Linked DNA regions of Homo sapiens: regions 2, 3, 4, 5, 6 and 7 are each linked to region 1. The links come from fine-mapping of genetic effects on gene expression. A gene starts in region 1. Each other region holds a variant in brackets. All regions are shown on one strand. Distances are from middle to middle. Region 1 holds the start of TAB2 (TGF-beta activated kinase 1 (MAP3K7) binding protein 2). Region 2 has its middle 87 kb from the start of TAB2-AS1. Region 3 has its middle 14 kb from the start of SUMO4. Region 4 has its middle 23 kb from the start of TAB2-AS1. Region 5 overlaps TAB2 (TGF-beta activated kinase 1 (MAP3K7) binding protein 2). Region 6 has its middle 74 kb from the start of TAB2-AS1. Region 7 overlaps TAB2-AS1 (TAB2 antisense RNA 1).

Evidence for each region.
Region 2: its variant is fine-mapped to the expression of TAB2 in liver (GTEx, PIP above 0.99).
Region 3: its variant is fine-mapped to the expression of TAB2 in monocytes after R848 (Quach 2016, PIP 0.95). The same link has a PIP of 0.9 or more in monocytes and monocytes after Pam3CSK4.
Region 4: its variant is fine-mapped to the expression of TAB2 in whole blood (INTERVAL, PIP above 0.99).
Region 5: its variant is fine-mapped to the expression of TAB2 in whole blood (TOPMed, PIP 0.97).
Region 6: its variant is fine-mapped to the expression of TAB2 in whole blood (TOPMed, PIP 0.93).
Region 7: its variant is fine-mapped to the expression of TAB2 in monocytes (TOPMed, PIP above 0.99).

Annotation. Positions count from the first base shown.
Region 1 is chr6:149,315,718-149,319,717 of GRCh38, forward strand. TAB2 (TGF-beta activated kinase 1 (MAP3K7) binding protein 2) reads left to right here and starts at 1,995. Exons shown (of 7, transcript NM_001292034.3): 1 at 1,995-2,298. RefSeq lists silencers at 1,138-1,207, 1,258-1,797, 1,888-2,787 and enhancers at 2,878-3,057, 3,218-3,327.
Region 2 is chr6:149,168,772-149,172,922 of GRCh38, forward strand. No RefSeq gene overlaps it. Among named protein-coding and RNA genes, the nearest start is that of TAB2-AS1, 87 kb to the right of the region's middle. The variant G/A (reference allele first, on the strand shown) is at 2,007.
Region 3 is chr6:149,412,244-149,416,394 of GRCh38, forward strand. No RefSeq gene overlaps it. Among named protein-coding and RNA genes, the nearest start is that of SUMO4, 14 kb to the left of the region's middle. The variant TA/T (reference allele first, on the strand shown) is at 2,312.
Region 4 is chr6:149,232,900-149,236,899 of GRCh38, forward strand. It overlaps a transcript of TAB2 not described here. Among named protein-coding and RNA genes, the nearest start is that of TAB2-AS1, 23 kb to the right of the region's middle. The variant A/T (reference allele first, on the strand shown) is at 2,086.
Region 5 is chr6:149,348,844-149,352,843 of GRCh38, forward strand. All of the region lies in intron 1 of TAB2 (TGF-beta activated kinase 1 (MAP3K7) binding protein 2), which reads left to right. Among named protein-coding and RNA genes, the nearest start is that of TAB2, 33 kb to the left of the region's middle. The variant T/A (reference allele first, on the strand shown) is at 2,150.
Region 6 is chr6:149,181,803-149,185,953 of GRCh38, forward strand. No RefSeq gene overlaps it. Among named protein-coding and RNA genes, the nearest start is that of TAB2-AS1, 74 kb to the right of the region's middle. The variant G/C (reference allele first, on the strand shown) is at 2,298.
Region 7 is chr6:149,244,529-149,248,528 of GRCh38, forward strand. All of the region lies in intron 1 of TAB2-AS1 (TAB2 antisense RNA 1), which reads right to left. It also overlaps a transcript of TAB2 not described here. Among named protein-coding and RNA genes, the nearest start is that of TAB2-AS1, 11 kb to the right of the region's middle. RefSeq lists an enhancer at 2,509-2,558. The variant T/C (reference allele first, on the strand shown) is at 2,474.

The sequences.
Region 1 (4,000 bases):
AATACAGGCTAGTTATTTTATATTTTATTTTCCTCTACTTGGGTTTGTCTGATGCTTCCTCATGACTACATAGCTCTAAGTGCACTGCTGGTGCAAGGATGTATTTGTTATATGTACCTTCTTTGCCCCCCACTGGTTTTTAGACTTGACCTGCTCAAACCTATAATCTATAAAGCATTATATTTCTATTAAAATACGTACATGTACATTCCATAAATTTTTTTAAAAATTTGCATAAAATACATCATCCTACCATTTCAAAAGCAATTGTTGCCTCTGTACTTTATAATGGTTTCAAAGACAAGTGAAATTTACTTAATGGATTCAGTTTATCTAAAATTATTTAATCAATTATTTTATCATTGAGTATGGAAATAATTCCTCAGAGAACTGCTGTAAAGCGTTAAAGTTAATGATTTCTTCTCGCCAGTAAAACTAGAATCTTCCCAATTTTGTAAATCCTAATTTTACTTTTGCTTCTCTTAATGGTATCACCAATGGAGAATAATTAAATTCCGATATTGTAAATCATAAGTACTTTCAGCTTTTGAAGTGGCAAAGTATTTGAATTGGTGCTATAGCCCAGACTTCAGGTATTTTCAAAGGATGAATGAGGAAAAAGGAAGTGGGGAGAAAGAACTTTTAACTGTGAGGAAGGCTCTACTATTTAAAAGATGGTTTAAAAAAAATTCTCACTGTAGCTACAGTGCTCACACTGGAAATAAAAGTATAAAAATGGTCCTTTAGGATTTTTCTCTGGAGTAAGAATTGTTTCAAGGAAGAAACTGCCAGGGATATGGACATTTTGGACAGGGGCAGAAAAATGCCCTAGTGTTTTGGACACCATGGAAGCGCTAGAATTTTTAAATAAATATTTCACATTGTGAGAAACGTCTGAGTATTAAACACGCTTTTTTTTTCCCTAGGGGGACACTAAACAAATATTTATTTAAGGAGGTAGAAACTTGAAGGCCCCCCCTCTTCCCGCAAAGCTAGTCTTTGGCTCTGCTTCTAGGACTTCTAGGAACGTGCAATTAAAATAAAATCGAAACAACGAAACCCTCGCAGCATTTAGATTTCTTTTTTCCCCCTCAACTGCTCAAGAAAAGTCAGAAGCCGACACTTTTTCCAAGTCTCGAAGTTGCCAGTTGTGAGGCTCCCAAGACGTCTCCCGCACACCCTAGGGACGATTCTGCACGGGTCCCTCCCGTTAGCCGGCGGTGCGATCCGGCTCCAAGGGGGTGTGTCCCGGACCGCAGCGACCCGGCGCCAGCCTCCGCCGCGGGCCCACCTGCTCCTCTCGGCCGCCGCAGCGCCCCGGGGTCCGGCCGGGCCCCCGGACCCCACCCGCGCGGCGCCGCCGGCCGCCCGGCAAGTCCCGCCACCCACTTCCGGACCCGGCCAGCCCCTCCGCTAGGTGCAGCTGGGACGCGAGCTCAGTTCCTTTCTTCCCTCAGCCCAAACTGCTAGCGGCCCCCGTGGCGGGAGGTGGAACCCGCAACCTACCCCCAAGGATGGGGGGCCCAGGCGGAGAAAGGGGGTCCCAGCCCTCCCCGGGCTGCCCGCACCGGCACCCCCCTCGCACGGCCCCAGCGGCGGCCCGCGTCCTCCCTCCAGCCCTAGCAAGACAGGCGTAGAGACTGCGAGTGTCGGGGGAGGGGTACAGGTCGGAGGAAGAGCATCCCCGGGCCGCAGCCGCAGCCGCCGCCGCCGCCGCCGCCTGCTGCTCCCCCGCCGTTCGGCTAGGGGAGGCCTCGTCACAGCCGCCGCCTCAGCCGCGGCTGCAGATCTCGCGGTGTTTGCCGGCCGCCGCGCCGCCATATTGTGTGACAGTATTTTGATTTGGACTGGGCTGGCGGAGCCGCGGCGAGAGCGAGCGAGAGCTGGGGGGGTGGGGGGAGGGCAGGCGAGCGCGAGGGGGGTGGGGGCAGAGGGAGGTGGGGAGGCCGAGCGAGCCGGAGCTGAGGATTGGGGAGCGGCGACGCCGCCCAGCCGTCGTTTTTGATCTGCTGCAGCCGCCGGCGGGGCGACCCAGCCCGACCCCCTCCCCTCCCCCTCAGCCAGGAGCGGTGGCGGCGGCGGCGGCCGGAGGGAGTTGGCGGCGGCGGGCGAGCGGAGGGGGCTGAGCGGGGAGGGAGGGAGGGCTGAGGTGTCCCCCCTGCCGGGTGGAACCGGAGGCGGCGGCGGCGCTGGCGGCGGCCGTGGTGGCGGAGGCGACGGTGGAGACGGCTGCCCTAGTGGGAGAGGCGGCGGCGGCGGCGGCCGAGGAGGAGGAGGGGGAAGCGGCGGCGGCAAAGGGTAAGCGGACAGCGCTGCCGGGCCTCGGCGGGATCCCCAACCTGGCTCTCCCCTCATCGCCCCGCACCCCCCTCCGTCTGGAAGGGGCTCTGCCGCCTCGCGAGGCCCGTGCGGGGCGTTCGCTTCTAACTTGCACTCTTCCTCCCTCCGCCTCTTTCCTTCCCCCAGTGGCGTGGCGGAGAGGGAGGCCCCCCGAGTCCCCCAGTCCGGTGGGGGTGGGGAGCATCGGGCCGGGCCTGGGCTCCGGGGCGTCCGTGCGGGGGGGGAGGGGGAGCTTCATTGGAATCGAGCGCCTAGGAGAGCCCCGGGTGGGGGAGGGCGCAAGGGGCTCGGGAGGGCCCCTCCCTGCGTCGGCGCCCCTGACCCGCCCCCAGGCATGTGTGAGGTGGGGGCGGGGGAGGAAAAATCTCCTTTTGGGGAGCCGAGGTCTAGTTAAAGATGACTCAGGGGCGGGGGTTTTGGGGACAGACACGGGGCAGTTATGTGGGGGTCGGGCGGGAGGGAGAACATCGTTCCTTTGCGGATCTTGGTTTTCTGCAGCCGTCTTTGAAGTGGGGGGCAAGCCCTACTATGAATATGTGGCCCCTTAAATTTCACTGGATGTTTCTGGTTTTCGGTCCCATCAACCTCAAACCCTACGATTGTGGTTGAGTCAGGGAGGCTGCAAGGGTCTCTTGGCGGTGCTGAACAGGTGACAGGTGGATCTTTCTGTTGCTGATGCTGTGAGATGTTCAGGCACAGTCGTACACCAAAGTGTCAGAGACCGTGTGAGTTTGTATTTATGTGTTTGGCCATGTTTCATTCCATATATAGTATATTTGAGATGTTAGGTTTCCATTCTTCAAGTCAGCTTAATTGTTGTGGATAAATTCTTCAAATGTTTCTGATAAGAGGGTTTTCCAGGAGAGCGGAGGGAATTTGCAGCCTCACAGGGGTTTCTCCGTAGTTCACGAAATTTAGGCCCCCAGTGCAGGCTGTTGAGTACCCTTATTCATTGGAAAGTTCTTGAACGCTAAGATCGTATTCAGAGCAACTGTACGGCAATATAATTTTGCATCCATTTTGTCTGTTTTAGGTAAGTTTGTAAAGTGTCTAATTTTGGGGTCAGATTGATTCACATTTTAGAAAAGGAATTTCGTTTCCGCTTTAGCATACTCTAAAGGTTATGATGATCATTATGCAATTCCAGATTTGGCCGGGAATTTTAGTGGGCATGGAATAGAATATTTGCTTTCAGTTTTTTCACTTCTGCTTACTACACTGTTCATACAGTAGCAGAGTATTGACACCTTTTAAAAAATATCTTTACATTCTTTGTAACAATGAAATCACGATTTTAAACTTTTGACGGTTTGAAACTGTAAATTTTGAAACCATGGCAGTTTGTAATAAAGGAAGACTTGCTTTTCTTTTGTTGTAGGCTTTGGCTGAGCATTTTAATTAGAAACAATGGGAAGAATTGTTAGATACATGAGCTATAGGCTAAATTAGGGTACAGTTAGTTTAAGGATTCTGCTGCTTTAAAAAAACATGTATGGAACGAATATGATGTACTATCAATGTGTTAACAGGAAATAGAACAAAAATTCCAGTGATTCAGAACTTCTGTTTGGGTTTTTCCCCCATAGGTCTAATCAGTTTCTAATAGAGGGTGCTTAAGTTTTAAATCTTTCAAGAATCAAACTGAAAGTTGAATACGTCA
Region 2 (4,151 bases), 150 kb before region 1:
GACCTAGGACTATGGGGACATGACTGGGGCAGAGCACTGGCTCATGAGATTTTTTTGGAACTGAACGTTTTAACAGACTTTGTTACTATTTAGGTATGGTGAGACCAACAGATCGAGAGACAATCGCCATTAAAAAGATAGTTTGTTACTCACAGTTCCCAAGGGGAGGAGGGCACAGCACCATGAGGGCCACATGGGGATGAACCAGGGACCATCAGGAGGCAGAGGGAGCAGAGAAACTACAGGCAAGAGCCTCGGCTGTGGTTTCTGTGGGAAGGAACAGGAAAGACGGGGTAAGCTACTTAGCATCGGATGGCTTGAATTATTTCAGTGGGCTCTGGGAAGAGGGTCTGTCCCTAGTTGTCTAGCACCTGGGCCAGGGGGGATTAGGGCAGATGGGTAATGACTCAGAGTATGAGAGCCCAGCAAAGAAGGTGGTTGGGGTGTGGACTCTAGGTTGGTTGGTTTGTATTTGAAAATTGTGCCCTTGGGCGGGTTGTTTACTATCCCTACGAATTGGCTAACCCTGAAAGGGGCAGTCCCTCCAGGGGACACAAGGCTCCGGATGTCAAAGCATCAGAATAGAGAAAATAAAAGCCACGGTTCACACACTGAAGCACAGGGCACTACTGGGGTCCTATGGGAGAGGAAGGGGAGACTCCAGAAAGGCACGTGCACGTGAATGACCCCAGCTCCATAGAAGCACCTGAGTGGGTCTCTCCGCCTGACTCCTGTCCTCCTCCCCTCCCTTTTCACCCCCATCTCCAATGAGAGGACTCCATGAACTCGCATTTCCAGCTATCAGCCCTCCCTCCCCCATTGTCTGTCTCTTGCTACGCCTGCTCACCTCTTCCTATCTTCTCCACAAACACCTGATTGTCAAGTCTCCAGGCTCTTCTGGTTGAGCCCTAGAAAACCTTGCTTTTCCATCCTCGCTTCCCCAGAACGCAGCAACTCTGTCATACTTAAACCCTTTCCACCAGCTTATACAAACAGGCCTTTTACAGAATACCCACTGGCAGCAAAGACATATACAAAGCCACAATGGGGTATATTCATCAGTCAAATATGAACTTCTGGGTGTGGGCTTACATCTCAATGGGCTTTGTAAAAATGAGTGATCTGTGCCCTCCTAAAAGGGCAGGGCCAGGGCAGATTTCTGAAGCTGACCAGGCTCAGCTTTCGGGAAAATTGCCTAAATGCTTTCTGAGTATAGCTGAGCATCACTGAGTCATCTCTGTGCCACTCCAGCATGGTCAGAAGTGCCGGGGGACACCGAGAGGGCAGTCGCAGCTGCCCAGAGGGGCCATTTGTACTCCTCCCTTCATGTGCTGGCAAGCTGTGTGTGAACCACTTACTAAGTCACCTGGGGGAAGAACAGTGATTTAGGGTATGGGTGACAAGCAGGTTCCATAGATTGTGAGCCGGTAGGAGGTCTGTCTACTAGAAGCCAGTTATACATGGGTGACTAAAGTGCAGTCAAGCTCCCCTCCCACTGACACTTCACAAGCCAACACAAAGCCCTACGTCTAAAGCCATCAGCTTTCCCAACTGAAGGTACCATTCCAAAGTTCTGTTTTAGGATTGGGGAAGTTTCTGGGAAGTTCCTTCAGCAAGAAGCTTTAATTCTAGTAAGTCAAAGTATACAGAAATGAGATAAACATGAGTGTAATTACATAATTGTTTTCTCATTGAGAAACCTTCCCATGTGAGATATTTCAAACCACTTTGGACAAGGCAAAATTTCCTTCTATGATTTTTTTTAAAGACCTGATACAAAAAGACCTATTAGAGAAATGGTACAAGAATTGGCCTTTGAAATTCTGTTGTTTTTAATAGTTTTATTTCAGCATATATACACAATATTTTATTTTAAATTTTATAATAAAACATGCATTTAAACACATCTGCAGTAAAAAAGCCAAAACTGTCAGCAGTTATTACACAATTCAGACTTTTAGAATTGATTTTTTTCTCCTGTTTCTCTCAGAGTATTTGTAAAATAT[G/A]AAGTCCAAGTGCCTGAGCTTTTCTGAACATTACCACATAATTTCTCCTTCTCCTGAACACATTAATTTCCCCTCTGTGCCCTCTGCCCACGCCATTTAACCTGCCGGGAAAGACCCCTCCCCTGCCTGCGTCAACCTCCGACTCAACCCCTTGGTCAAGCCCTACATCTCTGACCCTCGCAGCCTGAAGTAACGGCTATCCCCTTCCAATGCAGAGCAATTACTGCTGATGGGATGGCCTTGGCAATTAGCCCAGGATCCCCATGAAATAGCTCTTCCATTGCTCTCTATTAAAATGTCACTCAAACACTTTACTGGCGTTTGGTTTTCCCCTGAGTTACATCTTATCTCCCCAACTGGACTGCACTATTACTTTACTATTTTTTGTGTGTCCCTCGGAAAGCCCAGCAGAGTCACCCTAGGAGGTGACGTCATTACCGTGAGGTCTTGTTTTTGTCCTTTTACCCTTTACCATTTTCTGAGTCCACGTACAGTTTCATTAAATGCTAGATGTTTGACTTCTTTCTGGTAACCTGAAACTCTCAGTTCTGTTGGTTTTGGAACCTGGAAGACATGTCAACTGTGCTGCCCACAACTTTCTTTAAAATGGGCAGATTAGAAGATTTGAGTAAACAAGTTCTTTCCTATTAATGACTTCTGAAGACATACAGACTTGTATGTTATGTCTTCATCAGTTTTACCTCTCAAATAGGTGGGACTTATATTTCCACATCCGGTCGTCATCAAGCTTTCTCGTGCAGCCGGGGAAAGCGAAACACTTCCATAGCTGTGATCCAGTGACAGCAAGTGGGATGCTGTTGAGCTGCTGAGGCTGAATTACCCCTATCCATTTCATATCCAGAAACATTAGAGGGCTCAGCTAACTGCGCTAATTTGAAATATACCAGGGAGACCCAATCTGTGAAAAGGTGAGAAAGATTTTTATTTTATTGCCAGAGTTGAAACCAGACCTGAGTGGTACTTAAAATTTCAGTTACATGAGGAGACGGGTTTCTTTACACTTGATGAGGGCTCTTACAGCTCTGAGTTGGAATAGGTTCAGCAAAGGAGATCCATGAGCCATATGTTGGTGGCCTCTACTCATTATGAAAAATGCATGCTTCTGCAGCTTAAAAGCAAACAAACAAGCTTAAATCCCCACTCTCCTGGTTTTCATATGTGGGGACAGTGCCGCAGTGAGTGTCCTGAGAACAAACACTACAAGCCTCTCTCAACCAGCAAGCAGTGCCATATACAATTGCAAGAGTTGCCTGTAAGGATGTTGAGAATTTCTCTAGGTTTCCTGTTCCCAACCTGGTGAGTCCTTCATCCTAGAAGAACCAAGGACAGCCTCTTTGCTCTGTTTGGAGAAGCCTCAAGAAGTCTCAGTGGCCAGCAGTCAAGTTTCAAATGCCACCATTGCAGATGGGGGCCTTGGGGTTAGAGCACCACTCCTGGACACAAACACACATTTATGTCCAACCCTGGACCAGGAGAAATCGCAGAACCAGCATCCCAGGCCTGACCCTCACAAGGCCTGGCCTGGAGCCTGCCTCGGACAGAGGACCCAAGCCACTCTGAATCTCTCCACAGCCATGTCTCTTAGTCAGCCCGGCTGCTATAATGAAATGCCAGACGCTGGGTGATTTAAACAACAGATACTTGTTTTTGCATCATTTAGAGGCCATAAGTCTGAGATAAAAGTGCCAGCAGATTCAGTTCTTCATGAGGGCACTCCTCCTGGCTTACAGATGGATGGCCACCTTCCTGACATGTCCCAATATGGTCTAGAGAAAGAGAAAGGAAGAAAGAACAAGAGTACATGCTTTGATCTCTCTAACTCTTCTTATAAGTGCTCTAATCAATCCCTTCTTAGGGCCTTCCCCTCCTGACCTCATCTAAACCTAAAGACTCCACTTCCAAAGGCCATCATATCGGGGGTTAGGGCTTCAATATATGAATTTTGGAGGGAAACATTCAGTCCATAACAGCATGTGAACTAAGTAACATGATGAGAATGGGTCAGTTCACAGTGGACCATAAAGCTGAAGGGTCGTGAGGCAGAATCGGGCCTGGAAAAGCCAAGTCCAGAACAAGCTGCACTTGAGCCGGGGACAGGAGACAGGGAGCAGAACTGAAATCAAT
Region 3 (4,151 bases), 97 kb after region 1:
TTTTGACACAAATTATCCTTCATCTGTATGTTTAAAGGGGTTTGGGGGTAGAGGAATTGGCAGTTCATGTAAACTAGACTTCTCAGGAAAATTTTTATATTAACAAATTGTCAGCCAAATGTCTCCTGTGACAACTAATACGTTAGACAAAGATGTGTGTTATATTGCAGGCGTTTGAGGGAAAAAAGTTGAAATTTTATTTTTCTTTTAAAATCTTGTTTAACCTGTGTCATCTTTGATCTAATATTAATTAACTTTATATTGGGGAAATTATGCAGAAAATCAGCTCCATGGGTAGTCCAAAACTAATTGTTAGCTTTAAACCTACTTAATCAAAGCAGCTATAAATAGCAAAACTAGCTGACGTGTCACCAGTTTTCTCTATCCCAATGTAATGTTGACAGGCAATTCTAGTGAGCAGGGATAGATTTAAGAGGTAAACAGTATAAGATAAAATATTCAGACTGGGCACAGTGGCTCACACCTGTAATCCCAGCACTTTGGGAGGCCAAGGTGGGTGGATCACTTGAGGCCAGGAGTTTGAGACCAGCCTGGCCAACATGGGGAAACCCCATCTACTAAAAATACAAAAATTAGCCGGGCGTGGCAGCACATGCCTGTAGTCCCAGATCCTCTGGAGGCTGAGCCATGAGAATCACTTGAATTCAGGAGGTATAGGTTGCAGTGAGCCAAGATCGCACCACTGCACTCCAGCCTGGGCAACAGAGCACGACTCTGTCTCAAAAAAATAAAATAAAATAAAATAAAATATTCAGCCCATGAGTAATGGAAGTAGGCCATATTGCCGTAGAAAATAATGTAGTGACACTAGAGACTACTCCAGATTTAATATCTATATGCTGGATATCGGCATAGCTTCCCATATAACATCACAAAGTACTTCTATTCCTGTATGGCAAATGAATATATTTTTGGCTTCAGCTTTTTTGGTGCTACAATTTTATATCCATTTTACTTGAAATGGCTCAGCTGCATTTTAATTTGTATTGCTTCCATCTGAAAATACAATTAGACAACTGAGAGAAAAGGCCTAAGAAAACAATTTTGTAGTGAGTTTTTGTATTTGTTATGACCTCTCAACTTTATTATTTATTTATTTATTTATTTATTTTTTGTGGTGTGTGTGTGTGTGACACAGAGTCTCACTCTATCACCCAGGCTGTAGTCCAGTGGAGCAATCTCGGCTCACTGCAACCTCCGCCTCCCAGGTTCAAGTGATTCTCCTGCCTCAGCCTCCCCAGTAGCTGAGTTTACAGGCACACGCCATCACGCCTGGCTAATTTTTTTTGTATTTTTAGTAGAGACGGTTTCGCCACGTTGGCCAGGCTGGCATTGAACTCCCAACCTCAAGTGATCGGCTCACAGCCTCCCAAAATGCTGTGATTTCAGATGTCTTCATTAGATTTACTCTGTAATCCTGGGACAGTTCCTTGTTTATATTGCCTCTCCTTGTCGAACGAAGGTGATTAGATTAATGCTAAACTCACCTCACAGGGGTGTTGTAAGGATTAATGTGAAACTATTATCTGAGCCAACCCCTTCTCTCTGACTAGGAACTGCATTGTCCTAAAAGTGGGCCTTGTTTTTACATAAATGGGTTGTGAAGTATTGTTCTCTCAACAGTATTAACAGGTAAGTTAGCTATTTATCTGAATTGGTCTAGGGACATCTCAATGGATCAGAATTTGATGTTTCATTCACTGAGATTGAATTTTTCCTCTTAATGTCAAAGGTTGGTAGCTTTGCAAAGATTATAAAACTTTGGAAGGCTGACCTGAAGATCAGGTATGTTTATATTTGTATTATATGTTCAGCTGTCTAAAGAGTGTACATTTTATGATGGAGTATAACAAATTATTTCTCCAGGAAAAACACTTGAAGAACTTACTCTAGTGTTTGCATGTCTGCATATTTGTTTTAAGCCTAAAATGGACCCAAAGCACACTTCTCTCTAGTGCCTCCCTCTTTACAGATTCCCTTCTTTACTCCGTTCTTCCTCTTCTGAGGGCAGCCTTCCCCTGACGTGATGTAGAACCAATACAGCTTACTGATCTTATTCTAGAAGTGTTTATTGATCCTCATAGCCGTGAACAAAGACTGCGGTATCTTCACCATGGAAATCCTTTCCAGTGGTTTTTGGTTTTGTTCTTTAGAGACAAGGTCTTGCTGTGTTACCTGGGCTGGCCTCTTCCTGAGTTCAAGTTATCCTCCCACCTTGGCCTTCCAAGTAGCTGGGACTACAGATGCATGCCACTGCACCTGGCTCCAGATATATATATGTATATATATA[TA/T]TTTTTTTTTTAATTTTCACCTTTGAACTCATCCATGGATTGTTGATAGGTTTCGTCCCTTTCACACTGTGACCTAATTGATTCCAAGTTCTTACTCTTTCCTTGCACACTGCAGCTAGATTACAGTATATTACAGAAATAACACTATGCCCACACAATCCTGTTCAGAAATCTTTATTATTTCCCCATTGTTCATTGAGCTTACTTGTAAGACTTGTTTGTTCCTTACCTGTCTCTTCAGGATCATTACTTTCCAACAGAGTCCTCTTACAACTAAATTGGTCTAATCACTTCCCTTAATAGGCTTTGCACATCCCCACCAGTGTACTTTCGTCCATGCCATTTGCTTTGTCTCTGTACTTAAATTTAACTTTCCAGTGATCCGATCAAGGGTCACCATCATGAGACCTTTCCAAACCGCACCTTTTCTCATAGCACTTGCTATATTTTCTGCCTACTTGGCATTCATTGCTACTTTGACCTCTCCACTTAGATACAGACATATATTGTTTTATTGTGTGTCACTTTATTGCACCTCACAGATGTGTTTTTTACAGATTAAAGGTTTGTGGTAACCCTGCATTGAGCAAATGTATTGGTACCATTTTTTTCAACAGCATGTACCTCTGTGTCTTTTGTATTACGTTTTGATGAGTCTCACAATATTTCAAACTCTCATTACTGTTACATTCATTATGATTTGTGATCTGTGATCTTTGATGTTGTAATTGTTTTGGGGCACCATGAAGCATATCCATCTAAGGCTTAAGTGACGTTTGAACCATGTCTGTGTGAGACTTAACCGATACTTGATAATATGTGGTTTTTTTGGTGTGTGTGTGTGAGATTTTGTTTGTTTTTGAGATGGAGTCTCACTCTGTTGCCAGGCTGGAGTGCAGTGGTGCAATCTCGGAGCACTGCAGCCTCCACCTCCTGGGTTCAAGTGACTCTCCTGCCTTGGCCTCCCAAGTAGCTGGGATTACAAGCGTGCACCACCACGCCCGGCTAAGTTTTTGGATTTTTAGTAGAGACAGGGTTTCACCGTGTTAGCCAGGATGGTCTCCATCTCCTGACCTCGTGATCCGCCCGCCTCGGCCTCCCAAAGTGCTGGGATTACAGGTGCGAGCCACCACGCCCGGCCAGTGTGTGTGTTCTGACTGTTCACCAACCAGTCATTCCCCTGTCTTTCTCCCTTTTCTTGGGCCTCCTATTCCCTGAGACACAACAATATTGAAATTAGGCCAATTGATAACCCTACAGTGGCTTCTAACCTTAAGTGAAAGAAAAAGTCACACATCGCTCATATTAAATCAAAAACCAGAAATGGTTAAGCTTAGTGAGGAAGGCATGTTGAAAGCCAAGATAGCCTGACAACTAGGCCTCTTACACCGAACAGCCATGTTGTGAATACAAAGGAAAAGTTCTCAAAGGAAATTAATAGTGCTACTTCAGTGAACACAAGTGATAAGAAAGTGAAGCAGCCTATTGCTGATATGAAGAGTTTTAATCACCTGGATAGAAAGTCAAACCAGCCACAACATTCCCGTAGGCCAAGGCTTAATCCAGAGGAAGGCTCTAACACTCTTCAATTCTATGAGACAAGTGAGGAAGCTGCAGAAGAAAAGTTTGACAATAACAGAAGTTGGTTCATGAGATTTACAGAAAGAAGCCATCTTCATAACATAAAAGTGGCAGGTGAAGCAGTAAGTGCCAATATAGAAGCTGCATCAAGTTATCCAGAAGATCAAACTAAGATAATGTGGCTACATGAAACAGATTTTCCATGTAGATGAAACAGCCTTCGAGTGGAAGAAGGTGTCGAGATGCCCTCCAGGACTT
Region 4 (4,000 bases), 83 kb before region 1:
CCATCCTGAGGGATGCTGCTGTACTTCCCTCACAGCGACCTGTGTGGAAGTCGAAGCCCAAAAGGCAGGCACAGCTGACATCCTGGCCAGGAGTACCCACTCCCATGCCAGGGCATAGTACATAATAGCCCTGTTTCACCTGCCTAGTGTCCACCCCTCACACCAGGAGTGATATATCCTGCATGCAGACCCACCAGCCGGAAGATGGAGGTAGCCAGGCACTCATGGGTGGGGACAAATGATGACAGGAAATAACCAAGGAAGTCATGAATGCCATGGTAACTACCTGGCGGGGGGTGAGAAACAAGGGCTTTCCAGCACAAGTCACAACTTGGGCACTTAGCACAGTGACCAAGAATCTGTCATCCAGGGTCCGAGACAAACCTCCCTCCGCTCAGTGTGCCTCCTTGGCTTCTCCACTGAGACGCCTCTACTGTAGGCCAAGAAAGTTGATCCTGAAAGCTCACCGCAGAAAGCAGCAAACTAAACCTCCTTCCTGCCTGGGCCCAGAGCCACCCAGGGCCCAGCAACCAGTTCTTATCTCTTCATCTGATTTGTCACACGTAAGTGTCATGGTTGAGCCATTGGTTTGTCTCCTCCATTATATTATGAGCCTCTTAAAGGCCAGAAGTGGTTTTTTATCCCTGAATCACCAACATGTAACTGCCCCCTAACAAAGCACTAAGTAATTGTTTACCAAATGACTCATGGATCTGACATTCTTCAAATGAAAACCCCCTAGGAAGGTTTTCTCCAATAGATTAGTCCTGCTTTCCTTTACACTTCACAATATACTTGTTTATTAGATTGTAAATTTCTCAAGGCCAGAAACTCACCTTAATCTATTCAATTGGTGCAAAAGTGATTGTTGTTTTTGCAACTACTTTTAATGGCAAGAACTGCAATTACTTCTGCACCAACCTAATATATCCAATGCTTGATCCATAACGGGCTCTCCATAAACAATAATATAATTTTTTTACCACCATGAAGCCCTCCAACCCTCCCCAAATGCTGTTAGGTTGGACCTCTCAATCCTATCCTTGTGTAATTCGCTTATGAAATGTAAATGTGGCATTTTTACATTTATTCCTATGAAGTTCCAACAGTACTTCACTTCAGTTTATGATTTTTTTAACCTTTTAATAATAATAATCAGTCACATTTTTGTCATTTGTATTTTCAACCAAGTCTTTAAGAACTATATTGAACAAGACACCTATGACTCACAAACCGCTCCTAGTATGAAGTTTTCACATGGGAGGTTTTCAATAACATTTTTAAGATAAAAGAGAAACCTACTAAAAGCAGACTATCTGATAAAATCTTGGCTTCCCCTGCTGACATGTGCAGACTTGAAGACAGAAGAAGTAATAAAGGGAACTCTTGCTACTCGGATGTTTTAAATCAGAATGTTGAAACCATAACCCCCTAGAGGTCACCCCTTTCTTGAGAGGTGCCAGGAGGAAAGTAAGAGGCTGAAGAGGGGTTGGCTGAAGGGCACTGGGGCCAGCAGGAAGTCAACCACTGCCCACCCACACCCCAGCTTCACCCCGAGCTACTCACTGCCATCTTGTATGTATTAGGGTTTTGCGTAAGGTTTTGTTTGGGAGAAACTGGTGCCCACAAAAAAGAAAATGGAAAATCAACCTCCCCATTTCACAGTTGCCCACCTCCTGCCGCATGTACCTTGCAAATGACGCTGTCAGCCAGACATCCCAGGGAGCTGCTTATTCATTTTCTTGTGGACAAGATGGGAAAATAGAGTGCAGTTAGGTTGGGTTCTTAGCAGACAATACACTGTGCTGAGATGATTAATGAATTGATTTCAACCTGGAGGGAGTTCCCTGGGTTGTGTCATAGAACTGTGTGAGATTTTTTCAGTGATTTGAAGGAAACATCAAAGGCATGTGTGCCAGATAAGTAGAAGATAAAAAGATGAGACGACTAAGATTAGAGAGTGTGAAAAAAAAAAAAAAAAACACACTCTTTTTAAAAAATGGCATTGGCCTAAGAATAGACCAAAAACAAAGGCATACCATGTAACAAGAATAAACACTAAGTGCCACTTTTAGATTTTCAAAA[A/T]CAATTGCAAAAATACAAGATGAGGACATCTGACTTCAGCACTTTTTATTAGAAAGCCAGGAGGTTTATAATTAATAATAACTCCAGCTTTTTAAGTGTGCGCTCTGTGCCACTCAATCTGAGTTCAGAGTGGAGCATAAAAATAAAAGCTAAGGCAAGTTCTGTTTGCATTCATATAAATACAACATTCAAGGCAAGGAAACATCTGACCATAATCTGAACTGGCTGAAACACCAAGTGGGTTTACGGTTTCAATCCCGGATGACACACTGTAAGAGGGACCTTGAGAAACTGGGCCCTGTGCCAAGGAAAACAGAATTTTGAAGGCTCCATAAGCCACAATAGTGAAGAAGTGTTAAAGGAAATGGGGATATTCTGTTGAGGAAGAGCAATCTTGGGAGGAACGTGATAGATGTCTTTAAAAATTTGAAACATCCTATTAAAAGGGGATCCTATGTGTTTGGTGTAACAGCAGAAAGAGGAACTAGGATCAGGAGGGTGAAGTTTGAGGTAGCAGCCTTGTTTGGTCTTGAGCACCAAAAAATCATCTGACTAGCTTGAGCAAAAAGATACATTGGTTGGAAGAACATGAAGGAGTTCACCATTTCCTAGCTAGGCCGAGGAACCAGACTGGGGGTCCACAAGAAACAGAGGGCTCCAGAAAGCCTTGATATCAGGAACTTCTTGACCATCTTGCTTAGCACTGCCTCTACAATTAAAAGAATTCCAGCCATTGCCTTGGTGCTTGTGTCACCCTGCTCAAGATTCATGTCCTAGGAGCGTGAATTTCATTAGACATGCATAGGTCACACATCAGTCCCTTGACTGTCCCAGGGAAATGAGAAGAAGAGTCTGGCAGAAGGACCTTCAAGAGGTCCCTTTGACTTCCACAGGGGGAGGACACCTAGATTTATTTGTCAAACCCAGGCTGGCTCTAGTGGAAAGCAGTTTATTCCCCAAAAGAAAACTATGGTCCTCTTGGGAAGGGAGAATGGATTTAAGGCACCCAAAAAGTGAAAAATGACCATGACACAGAGCTCAAAATGCAGAAATACTTTCTAAAGATTAAAGTGGTCCAGGACATTGGAGACTACAAAGGGTGGGAGGGTGAGAGGGAGGTGAGGGTTGAAAAATTACCTATTGGGGACAGTGCTCACTATTTGGGAGATGGGCGCACTAAAATACCAGGCTTCACCACTACACAATATACGCATGCAAGAAATCTGCACTTGTGCCCCCTAAATATATAAAAATAAAATAAAATGGTCCAGGAATATAATGACCAATGAGGTCACCCTCATTTGAGGTATTCAAGCGTAAGTCACAGGATCAAACAATAGGAGGTATTGTTGGCTGAAGCTTCTATATCTCTAAATAAGTAGTTTTCAACTTGGGAACATGTCAGAATCATGGGAGGAGCTTTTTCAAATTATTTCTGCCTCGATTTCTTTCCTGTTCACAAAGATTCTAATGCCCTTTTACCATTCCTTATTCCCCATTGCCAAATGAGAACCCAATACAACACCACATCTGAGGTTTCTACTCACTCAGTGCTTTCTGTTGGTGAAATGGCCCAGAAAAAGAGATAGGAGGCTAATCAAGTGGGGAAGTTCTTTTTTATATAAAAATTTTTTGAGTAATAGGAATGTCTACCTTGTAGAGTTAGGCAGCATAAGACATATCTGTTAAAAAATGGAAAGGAACTTGGCTGAAGAAAATTAATAGTTGGAGTTATCTGGCAATGCTGCATATGTTGGCTTCCCTAGGCTACTGTTATTTTGTTTGGAAGGGGTCCAATTTTCCCCTTGCATAAAAGGAGACAAGAGCTGTTTGAAGCCATTAACAGCATCAATAGGAGGGACATTTGAATTAATAACCAGGAGACCAGTCAGCCAGAAGCAATTTTCAGCATAAT
Region 5 (4,000 bases), 33 kb after region 1:
TAATCCCAGCTTAGTCAGGAGGCTAAGGCAGGAGAATTGCTTCAATCCGGGAGGCGGAGGTTGCAGTGAGCCGAGATCGCACCGTTGAACTCCAGCCTGGGCAACAAGAGCAAAACTCCATCTCAAAAAATTTAAAAAAAAAATCTTAAAGATAATTTTATTCATGTTAAATAAATTAAGAAATATGTAAATACTACAATGAATATTGTACTTTTTCCTCAATGAGACCTAAAGTTTGCTTATGGAAGGGAGCACAGGAAGAATTGCAGCTTGTGAGTTATTGTAAAGTAGTCAAGGCTGGGCGCCATGTCTCACGCCTGTAACCCCAGTGCTTTGGGAGACTGAGGCGGGTTGATCACAAGGCCAGGAGATTGAGATGATCCTGGCTAACACAGTGAAACCCCGTCTCTACTAAAAATACAAAAACTTAGCCAGGCACGGTGGCACGCGCCTGTAATCCTAGCTACTTGGGAGGCTGAGGCAGGAGAATTGCTTGAACCCAGGAGGCGGAGGTTGCAATGAGCCGAGATCACTCCACTGCACTCCAGCCTGGGCAACAGAGTGACACTCCGTCTCAAAAAAAAAAAAAAAAAAGGTAGTCAAGAAAGAGTTTTTTGAAATCAGTAATGTGACTGGGTGTGATTAATGACATGCAGATCTGTTAAGCTGAGATAGCTGGTAAGTGTTTCAGGTGTGTTCCTGTTTACTTTTTGTATATTCATATGCTGCTTGTTTTAGCTCAATACAGCTTTCTGTGTTCACCTAGTGTTTCTTACAAATGAAATTACAGCAAAATTGACTTAATGTTCAAATTGTTCTCTCATATCAATTGTGATGGAACATATTTACATTTTCAAAACAGATATAGCAGCACTGACATATCTGAGGTTAAGGGAAACGCTTGAGTTTGGGGAGATAGATAACCACTTTTTAGAGTAGTCTTTAAAAGCTGTATGTATTCTGATGTTTATTTAGAGAGTTATGGCAACAAATATTTACTGAGCATCCACTTGACATACACTAAGTAGTTAGGATACACCAGTGAAAAATAGTCTCTCTGCTTGGGAACTAACATACATGCATGCATTCATTCATTCATTCATTCAGAGATGGAGTCTCACTCTGTCGCCGAGGCAAGAGTGCAGTGGCGCAATCTCAGCTCACTGCAACCTCTGCCTCCTGGGTTCAAGCGATTCTTTTGCCTCAGCCTCCCGAGTAGCTGGGATTACAGGCGCCTGCCACCACGCCTGGCTAATTTTTGTATTTTTAGTAGAGACAGGGTTTCACCATGTTGGCTAGGCTGGTCTCAAACCCGTGACCTCAGGTGACCCACCCACCTCAGCCTCCCAAAGTGCTAGGATTACAGACGTAAGCCACTGCGCCCGGCTGGAATTAATATTTCTCACGTGAAGAATTTTCTTTGTGACCAGGGCTTGTTTTTAAGAGGTAAATAGGATTGACTGGGAGAAGAGGAAGTCTAACAAGGAGACGACTGGGCAACAAGGCATTTTTCAGATCTCTTAAATTATACTTTTATGAGATAACTTCCTAGAATTCTGTCCAATTCAGGATTTTATGATTTACAGAAAAAATTATTACCGCTAATGGCTACTTTGGAAACTGGAATTTGCTTTTAGCGTATGTTGAAATGGAAAAATCTTCTCTTACATTCTTGTACACAAGCTAAGGAAGAATCCTAGGGCGGTTGAGAAGTGAACGTTATGTATTTCTTCCTACTACTGTTTGATATTCGGCATGAACCATATTTTATGTCTTTTTTTTTTTTTTTTTTTTTTTTAAGAGCTCAGTCACCCAGGCTGGAGTGCAGTGGCACAATCATAGCTCACTACATCCTTGAACTCCTGGGCTCAATGGATCCTCCTTCTTTAGCCTCCTGAGTAGCTGGGACTACAGGCATGTGCCACCATGCCCAGCTTACTTTGTTAACATAATTAAATTTGTTCCAGCAAAACTCATAATTATGTAAGAACGGTGCAAAGATAAAATGATGTATATATATAGTTTGACATATATTAAAACCTTATTAGCATTAGCGTATCTCAAGGTCTTCTCAGATAAAGACCACTATACCTTGAAACCTTCATTCATCTTCTCAGCTTCTCCTGTAACTACCCCCATCCTGAGTACC[T/A]TCTTCATAATCCCCTTCTTTCCTCTTTGTCCCTCCTTTCTTCCTCCTGCAAGACAGGTGACACGATCCCCAGAATCTGCCTTACTTCTTTTATACTTTAAGTTCCTATGCTTCAATACTTTCCCACTTCCTCCTCAGCCCAGAGAGATCCCTTTAAACACCTATTATAACACAGTTTATGCCACTTTTCTAGCACTTTGCACAACCTAGTACTGTTGAGTTTGTCATGTAGCTTTGTCAGATTTCCCCAACTGCAAGTTTTTTGTCCCGTATGCATTGAAAAAGAAGGCCTTAAAGGCTCAATCCACTCCTACAATATTCTGCAACCAGGGTAATATGCAGCCCTGTAAGGTTTTGTTCCTTTGCACTTCGTGGAAGTTCATGATATTTAAAATAAATAATTACTACTACTACCAGTTTGTACTTTTTGCTGTAGGCAGGACAGATATAATGCAATTGGCTTTAATTATGTTGTCACTAATCCTTGAAGCTCTTTGAGTTGTTTTCTCCATTTTACGAAGAATGAAATGATAGTATTGATATTTTATTTACATGTGTACTTACTATGTGCTCTTTTTATTATCTTACTTGGATTACTCATTTAATTCTCCTAACACTCCTATGAAGTAGCTACTCTATCATCACCATTTTATAGATGAGGAAACTGAGGCACAGAAAAATTAAATGATTTGCCCAAGAAGTTACTGCAAGTAAATAGCATATTAAACTTCATAAACGAACCCATGGAATCCTAGAATTTATACTTAGCCAGCTATCACTGTGTATCAAATACTGTTTTATATACCTTATATCATAATTGTCTCATCTAGTTAGATAAGACAGTGTGCACTTATGGAACTGAGGTTGAAATATTTAGCAACATTAGGTTATCTCTGTTTTAAACTATTAACATGTTCTTTCACCAGAAAATTTTAGAAGCGTGCATGGCTAAGGTAGAATACTGGTTCTTTTAGTTCTACTCTTTTCTTCTCTTCAGGAAAGTTTATGCCTGTCTCAGAGTAACATTTTATTTATTCATTGGTTCCTTTTCTTTCTTAAGATTTTAATAGTAAAGGCCAATACTTTGTCAAGTTTAAATTATGTAAATTGAGTAGTTTATGTGAGATACATTACTAGTTATTCCTTTTATTTTTAAAAGTTAGATCTCTGGGAATTTAGCTTTGCTCCACCATTTACTTTGTATGGCACCTTCTTGATAGTAAAAGATTTTTCAGAAATTTACCTGCCCAAAAACAGCTTTTATTTTATAATAAGCTTCATTTTTAGCTGACCTATGGTGATCCATATGTGTTTATTGTACATCTACATTTTCCTACACTCTTAAATATATAGTAGCTGCAGAATCTGTTTGTGTATACTTAATAGAGGTAATTTTTTCTTCCCCTAGTTATTTCTTTCCCATTGAATCAAGTTACATACAAGTTTCTAACCATTCCTGTTACAGGCTTGTTGGTGATTGACTTCATTTTAATAATCTTTTTATTTCATTGCCTTTCACCCAGTTTTTTAAACTCATGAAATTCCACACCCCTTTCCATCTCTATTTTCCTTCCTTAAATCAATACTTTACTATAAGCACCTCTTATATGTGATCCTTTGACCATAGTCATCTTGGTTTTTGATTAGTCCCTTCCCTGCCTTTCATTTACTGTGTTATCAACTAGCGGTCTTGTAGGAACTGGAGTAAACTTTACTTGAAGAAACATTCAGATAAGCAGTTGTCTTGAGAGGGCTCATCACAGTGGATTCAAAGATGAATCAGTGAACATACTTGGGCTTTATACTTAGGGACTTTGATTCAGTAGGTCCAGGATGAAGCCCAGTGATTTT
Region 6 (4,151 bases), 130 kb before region 1:
GCTATTCCTATCAAGGAGTATAATATATTGTATCTGAAGATACTGGTAACCACTGAATTACATCTAAATGCTTGTAGGTTTTTAACCATAAGATGTCAATAGCCTTATTTTTGTTCAATGCAGTGAAGGCCCTGTTTATAGAAATCAAATTCATATCATAACAAAAAAACTTAATCACAAAGTGAATTCAAAACCCTGACAATGTTTAGTTTAACATATACTTTAAAAATAAAAATATAAAAGCTCCACTGGGAGAATCTAGAACTATCCTTTGGTCATAAACAACTAGAAAACTGGACAAAATATAGGAAATGAGAATTTTCAGAAATTGTGCTACAAGCAGTGCAGGACTGTTCTTCCTGAAAAATGGAAAATAAGTGAAGTGAGCCCCACCACTGACAAGGCTTTCTGCCTGGAGGAACTTTCTGGACTTTAGTGTAAGATGCTGGAATGGAAACAGAGCCCTGGAATCTTGCTGAGTTGAGGAGACAAAGATGCAAGGTTAGGGAGTCCAAGGCAGCTCTGTGGGGGAATAGCTGCAAGGAGGGAGTCACACAGAGAAAGAGTTCCAGAAACCTACTCGGGAGTCCTGTGCAGTCTTTAGCTGAATGCCAGTCTGCGCATGTGTGAGGTGATAACTCATAAGGCCAGGCAAAAACAACTTCTGCAAAAAGAACAATCACCAGAGAACCGTACGCTGACAATTCCCAGAGTTCACACAGACTTGGCAATAGTTCCGTTTCTCATGAGGCAAAGTAGAAAGCCCTCACTGAATACGCAAGGCATTTAGTAGATATTCCAGGAGGGCCAGGCCTTAGAAATAGGGCTGTCTCAGAGTAAAGGCTAGGTTAGCCCCATCCCAAAAGAGTTTAAAAATAAAACACAAAGGGGCCGGGCGGGGTGGCTCATGTCTGTAATCCCAACACTTTGGGAGGCCGAGGCAGGTGGATCACCTGAGGTCATGAGTTTGAGATGAGCCTGACCAACATGGTGAAACCCCGTCTCTACTGAAAATACAAAAATTAGCCGGGCGTGGTGGTACGCCCATAATCCCAGCTACTCAGGAGGCTGAGGCAGGAGAATCACTTGAATCCAGGAGGCAGAAGTTGCAGTGAGCCGAGATTGCACCACTGCGCTCCAGCCTGGGTGACAGAGTGAGACTCCATCTCAAAAAAAAATAAAAAATAAAATAAAGCACAAAGAGATTAAGCCAATCTGCAAGTAACTTAGCTGCCTGACATAAAAAGCCTAACACTCTTTAAAAGAATGTGAAAAAAATCCAACCTTTAACAATGTAAAAGTTGTAATGTCTGGTATTTGGTCAAAAATTACCAGGCATGTAAAGAAGGAAAATATAACCCATAACCAGGAAAAACAATTAATTCATAGAAAGAAACTCAGAAATGGCAGAAAATGGCATTAGCAGTCAAGGATTTTAAAATGACTAATACAAATATTATCATTATGATCATGGTGTAAGAAAAATGTGAACATGACAGTGTAAGAAACAAAAGATATAAAAAAGACACGAATGGAAATTCTAGAGATGAAAAATATTCTATTTGAACAGAAAAAATATACTTGTTGGGATAAAAAGCATACAATACAGAAAAAAGGTTTATTAAACTTGACCATAGCAATAGAAACTATGCAAAATGAAGAACAGAGAGAAAATATTTTTTTAAATGAAACAGAATGATAGTGGCCTGTGGGTCAATATACTTGATCTATATACATGTGATAAGGGTCCCAGAAAAGGAGGGATAGATATAGAAAAAAAAATTGAAAAAATAAGGTTAAAATTTCTCCAAATTTAGTGAAAAGCGTAAACCACAGATACAAGAAGCTCAAAGGATCACAAGAAACATAAAGAAAACTACACAAACACCGTTATAATCAAATTGATCAAAACCAGTGGTAAAGAGAGTACCTTACAAGTAGCTGGAGAAAAAAAATACACACTATGTAGAGAAACAAGAATTAGAATGACCACAGACTCCTTGTTAGTAACAAAGTTACAAGAGAGTAGAACATCTTCAAAGTACACAAAGAAAAAAAAAAGCTATAATTCTAGAATTCTAAATTTAGAGAAAATACCTTTCAAAATGAGGGCATGGCCAGGTGCGGTGGCTCATGCCTGTAATGCCAGCACTTTGAGAGGCCAAGACAAGCAGATAGCTTGAGCCAGGAGTTCAAGACCAGCCTGGACAACATGGCAAAACCCCATCTCTACAAAAAAATACAAAAGCTAGTGGGGTGTGGTGGTGCATACCGTAGTCCCAGCTACTCAGGAGGCT[G/C]AGGTGGAAGGATCATTTGTGCCCAGGAGGCAGAGGTTGCAGTGAGCCAAGATTGTGCTACTGCACTTCAGACTGGGTGACAGAGCCAGATCCTGTCTCAAAAATAATAAAAATAATGATAATAACAAATAAGGGCAGAATAAAGATTTTTTTAGACAAAAAAAAAAAAACAAAACCTTGAAAGTTCTTCACCAATCAATGTTTCCCCCCCTTTCCACTTGTTTTTTTTATTTCAATAGGTTTTTGGGGAATAGGTGGTGTTTGGTTACATGGATAAGTTCTTTGGTGGTGACTTCTGAGACTTTGGTGTACCCATCACCCAAGCAGTGTACACTGTACCCAGTGTGTAGTATTTTATCCTTCACCCCTCCCCGTCCTTACTGCCAAGATCCCAAAGTCCATTGTACAATTCTTATGCCTTTGTGTTCTCATAGCTTAGCTCCCACTCATAAGTGAGAACATACGACGTTTGGTTTTCTATTCCTGATTACTTCACTTAGCATATGGTCTCCAATTCCATCTAGGTTGTGGCAAATGCCATTATTTCATTCCTTTTCATGGCTGAATAGTATTTTATGGTGTATATATAGCACATTTTCCTTATCCACTGGTTGATTGACAGGCATTTGGGCTGGTTCCATATTTTTGCAATTGAAAATTGTGCTGCTATAAATGTGTGTGTGCAAGTGTCTTTTTCATATCATGACTTGTTTTCCTCTGGGTAGAGATTGTTGGATCAAATAGTAGATCTACTTTTAGTCCTGTAAGGAATCTCCACACTGTTTTCCATAGTGGTTGTACTAGTTTACATTCCCTCCAACAGTGTAAAAGTGTTCCCTTTTCACCCCATCCATGCCAACATCTATTATTTTTTTATTTGTAAATTATGGCCATTCTTGCAAGAGTAATGTGGTATCTCATTGTGGTTTCGATTTACATTTCCCTGATAACTGAGCATTTTTTCATGTGTTTGTTGGCCATCTGTATATCTTCTTTTGAGCACTGTCTATTCATGTCCTTAGCCCACTTTTTGATGAGATTGTTTCTTTTCTTCTTGCTGATTTGTTTGAGTTCCTTATAGATTCGGGATATTAGTCCTTTGTCAGATGCATAGTTCATGAAGATTTTCTCACACTTTGTGGGTTGTCTGTTTACTCCTCCGATTATTTATTTTGCTATGTAGATGCTTTTTAGTTTAATTAAGTCCCAAGTATTTATCTTTGTTTTGGTTGCTTTTGCTTTTTGGTTCTTGGTCACAACGCCTTTGCCAAAGCCAGTATCTACAAGGGTTTTTCTAATGTTATCTTCTAGAATTTTAATGGTTTCAGGTCTTAGATTTAAGTCTTTGATCCCTCTTTAGTTGATTTTCAGATAAGGTGAGAGATGAGAATCCAGTTTCATTCTCCTACATGTCACTTGCCAATTATCCCAGCACCATTTGTTGAATAGGGTGCCCTTTCCCCACTTTATGTTTTTGCTTGCTTTGTCAAAGATCAGTTGGCTGTAAGTATTTGGCTTTATTTCTGGGTTCTCTGTTCTGTTCCATTGGTCTATGTACCTATTTTTATGACATTACCATGCTGTTTTGGTGGCTATTGCCTTGTAGTATAGTTTGAAGTCAGGTAATGTGATGCCCCCAGATTTATTCTTTTTGCTTGGTCTTGAATTGGCTATGTGGGCTCATTTTTGGTCCCATATGGGTGGGAGTTCAGTCAGGCTGGTGGGAAAAATTTTAAAGATAGTTATAAGTAATAGATACAAACCTTCCTGGAAGGCCGGGGTTGTTGCATAAGCTTCAGTAACAGATCTGGCTGAAGGCAGCCTAATCCTTATCTTAAGTAAATAGCTTAAAGT
Region 7 (4,000 bases), 71 kb before region 1:
TATGAGTAATAATAAGAGCAAGCATACAGGAAGATACAGGCTGGGCGCAGTGGCTCACGCCTGTAATCCCAAGCACTTTGGGAGGCCGAGGCACGTGGGTCACTTGAGGTAAGGAGTCAGGGGTGCTGGTGGAACACTTGAGGCCAGGAATTCGAGACCAGCCTGGCCAACATGGTGAAACCCCATCTCTACTAAAAATACAAAAACTAGCCAGGCGTGGGGGTGCATGCCTGTAATCATAGCTACTCAGGAGGCTGAGGCAGGAGAATCGCTTGAACCAGGGAGGTGGAGGTTGTAGTGAGCAAAGATAGCGCCACTGCATTCCAGCCTGGGGACTGCAGGAGACTTCATCTCAAAAAAAAAAAAACAACAAGATATGGCAGATGCTGCTGCCATCTGTACACAGTTTTAGATGTATTAACTCATTTAATTCTCTCAAGACCTCAAGTTTAGATATCAGTGCTATCCCCATTTCATGATGCACAGAGAGATCAAGTAACTTGCCCAAGTCAAGCAGCTACCTTGGGGCTGAGCTGGAGTTTAAACCCAGGCACTCAGTGACAGCATCCACACTCATAACCACGATGCTAAGAGTTTGCCAGACAGGTGAGAAGCAACATTTTTGGAAGAGGGTCAGGGCCATAGGTTTTGTGAAGTGACAGAGCATGACATTCAGATTCAGTAGGGCTTAAAGACCCAAGTTTTGGAAAGTAGAGGAGATCTGAACCTTAGCCGTAGCTTCTAGAGGTGGGCTAAGAGCAACCTGGGCACATGTAGTGGTGACCAGAGGACTTGCAGCCATCAAATCACTATGGTGTGCTGTTTATTTCTCCCAAAGACTCAGGAGGGGAGAGGTTTGATACTTTTTTCTCATATCAGATAACTTTAAAATGTAGTTTTATATTATAGAATAGGATGTAAAATTACCATGACATTTTTCCTTGTTTCTTCTTCCTTTTGATATATGATTTAAATTGTTTCTTTAATGTATTTATTTATACTAAATAAAACAACTCATGGTTATATAAATTATTTCTCTTCCTGAAATTCCTTCATTCTTTTTCACCGAGATAGTCCCTCTGTCCACGCTTATACAACTAGATATTGATGCATGTGGGCAAAATTAGGGTGTTTTGCTGTTTGTTTATACAGATATGGAAACAATGCACTCTTTATTCCATGGCTTGCTTTGCTCACTTAATAATACCTCATGGACAACCCCCTAGCATCATCTTACTGAGAATCGTACAGTAATCCATACCATCACTTTTGTACCATTCCCCTACAGATGGATGGTTTCCAGATTCTGCCTCTTCAAGCAAAGCTGAAACAAATACTTCTGTCTATACATTTCTCCCTCCTCTGCGTTTACACTTTAAAAATTATACAGTCGTTACTGGACTTTTTTTTTTTGACAGAGTCTTGCTGTCACCCAGGCTGGAGTGCAGTGGCACGATCTCTGCTCACTACAAGCTCCGCTCCGAGGTTCAAGCAATTCTCCTGCCTCAGCCTCTTAAGTAGCTGAGACTACAGGCGCCCACCACCACGCCCAGCTAATTTTTATATTTTTAGTGGAGACAGGGTTTCACCATGTTGGCCAGGATGGTCTCGATCTCTTGACCTCATGATCCACCCGCCTTGGCCTCCCAAAGTGCTGGGATTACAGGCATGAGCCACCACGCCCGGCCGGTTATTGGACTTTTTACCAAAGGCCCACTTCTACCTTCAAGGGAAATGGCTCCCTAGCATTTGCTCCTAAAAGCAAATGGTCTGTTCAGGCCTAAAATTTCAAATTGTGTTCAATAGGCTACTTTTTACAGGACTCTGTTTTCCCTAGAAGACTGCATGAAACAATTTCCAGAAAATGTAAACTCCAGTCTTCATGGATAATTTCCTCCACCTACCTAATTTGCACCATCGAAACAAAGCTTTTTCTAAAACCGCTAATCAGAAGGTCTTATGTTGTTTTCTATTCGACCATAGCCTTTTAAAATAACAGTTGAAATGTCAAAGAAATCCCAAGTTCACCGCAGGTGTTCCTGGACTGGGCTGTTAAGTCGTGACAGTCAACATGAGAGGGCCAAGGAAGGCGGGAACCTAGGGCTCAGGCGGAGGGGCCAGGTCAGATTCAGAAGAGCTGGGCGCTCTTTTTTGTATGAGCCTGGGTCTTGCTCTCTTGCCGGGCTGGAGCACAGTGGCACAATCACGGCTCACTGCAGCCTCGGACTCCTGAGCTCAAGCCCTCCTCCCAGCTCAGCCTCCTGAGTGGCTGGGACTACAGATGCACCACCACACTCGGCTAAGTTGCTCTTTTGATTTCCTCTCTGCAATATTGAAGCCGTTTTCATCTGAAATTGATTCTGTTTGTCAAGGAAGACTAAAACCAAACAGAAAGTGCCTGAGTTCTGCTTCCTCCAAGCCTCTTGCCACAGCAGTCCCTGTTCAGCAGTCAGGGCCCACTCTCAGTTCCTTA[T/C]CCCCAACCTTTTGCTGCTGCTCTGCCCTCACCACCCAGCCGCCTCCCTTGCAGTTTCAACAGCTCCTGCTCAGGTAAGCCCTCCCTCTTCCCGACAACCCCCACCCCTCTCCTCCAAGGCTATCCACTCCCAACCTCTACTGCCCCCTCGTAAGTGTGAGCTCCCTGAGGGTAGGAACGTCATCATCCCGTGTGGCTCCCACCACATCCCTGGTGCCCTGCACTGGGTCTGCTTTACAGAAACACACAGGTAAGCACACAAATGGCCTCAGGCACGTCACGGACACCTCCTGCCATGAACCAGACACTGTTCCAAGAGTTTCACACACGTCATTTTGTTTAATTCTTAAAACCACTCTCTGGGGTAGACACCAATCATGTCCCCTTTGTAGGTATGGAAGCTGAGATAAGGCTCCATACATGCAAGCATGGGGTCCTCTCGTCAGCCAAACACACTCCTTTAATCTGACTTAAAATGACTATAAGCGGCTTCTCCAGGCTCTTCAGCCGCTCCCACAACCCCCAGCGCATTTTGGGTTTTGGCCTCTCTGATGCAAGTCTTACTCATGCCTTCTGTGCTCCTTATTGACTTCTATCTTGATTGTATCCTTTTTGCATCAGTTTCATAACTGCCCCTATGGGGTTAGAACTCATTAGAGAGCTGCCAGTGCAGCCACTCTGTTGGAGGGGACAAGTGGAGGTGTCTGTCTGTTATTTTCAGTAAGCTCGAGCTGTAACGACACAGGGTGAGTCCCAGGGAGAAGTGCATCCAGTCATCCGGAGGCCGCCTCTTCCAAAACCCTGGGCCACGGAACCGGTAGTGTCCATCTTTCCCCTGAATTTTAAGAAATGAGCATCTTAATCCGCTGGGATACAGGGAGGAGAACATCACACACGAGGGCCTGTTGAGGGGTAGGGGCAGCGGGTGGGAGAACATTAGGACAAATACCTAATGCATGCAGGACTTAAAAGCTAGATGGTGGGTTGATAGGTGCAGCAAACCACTATGGCACATGTATACCTGTGTAACAAACCTGCATGTTCTGCACATGCATCCTAGAACTTAAAGTAAAATAAAATAAAAGACAGAAAGAAATAAACATTCTAAGGTCAGGCATGGTGGCACATGCCTGTAATCCCAGCACTTTGGGAGGCCGAGGTGAGTGGGTCACCTGAGGTCAGGAGTTCAAAACCAACCTAACCAACATGGCGAAACCCCGTCTCTACTAAAAATACAAAAATTAGCCGGGCGTGGTGGCAGGCGCCTGTAATCCCAACTACTTGGGAGGCTGAGGCAGGAGAATTGCTCGAACCTGGGAAGCAGAGGTTGCAGTGAGCTGAGATTGTGCCACTGTACTCCCGCTTGAGCGACAGAGCGAGACTATGTCAAAAAAAGAGAGAGACAGAGAGGGAAAGAAAAAGAAAGAAAGGAAGGAAGGAAGGAAGGAAGAAAAGAAGGAAGGAAGGAAAGAAAGAAAGAAAGAGAGAGAGAGAGAGAAAGAGAGAAAGAAAGAAAAGCATTCTACA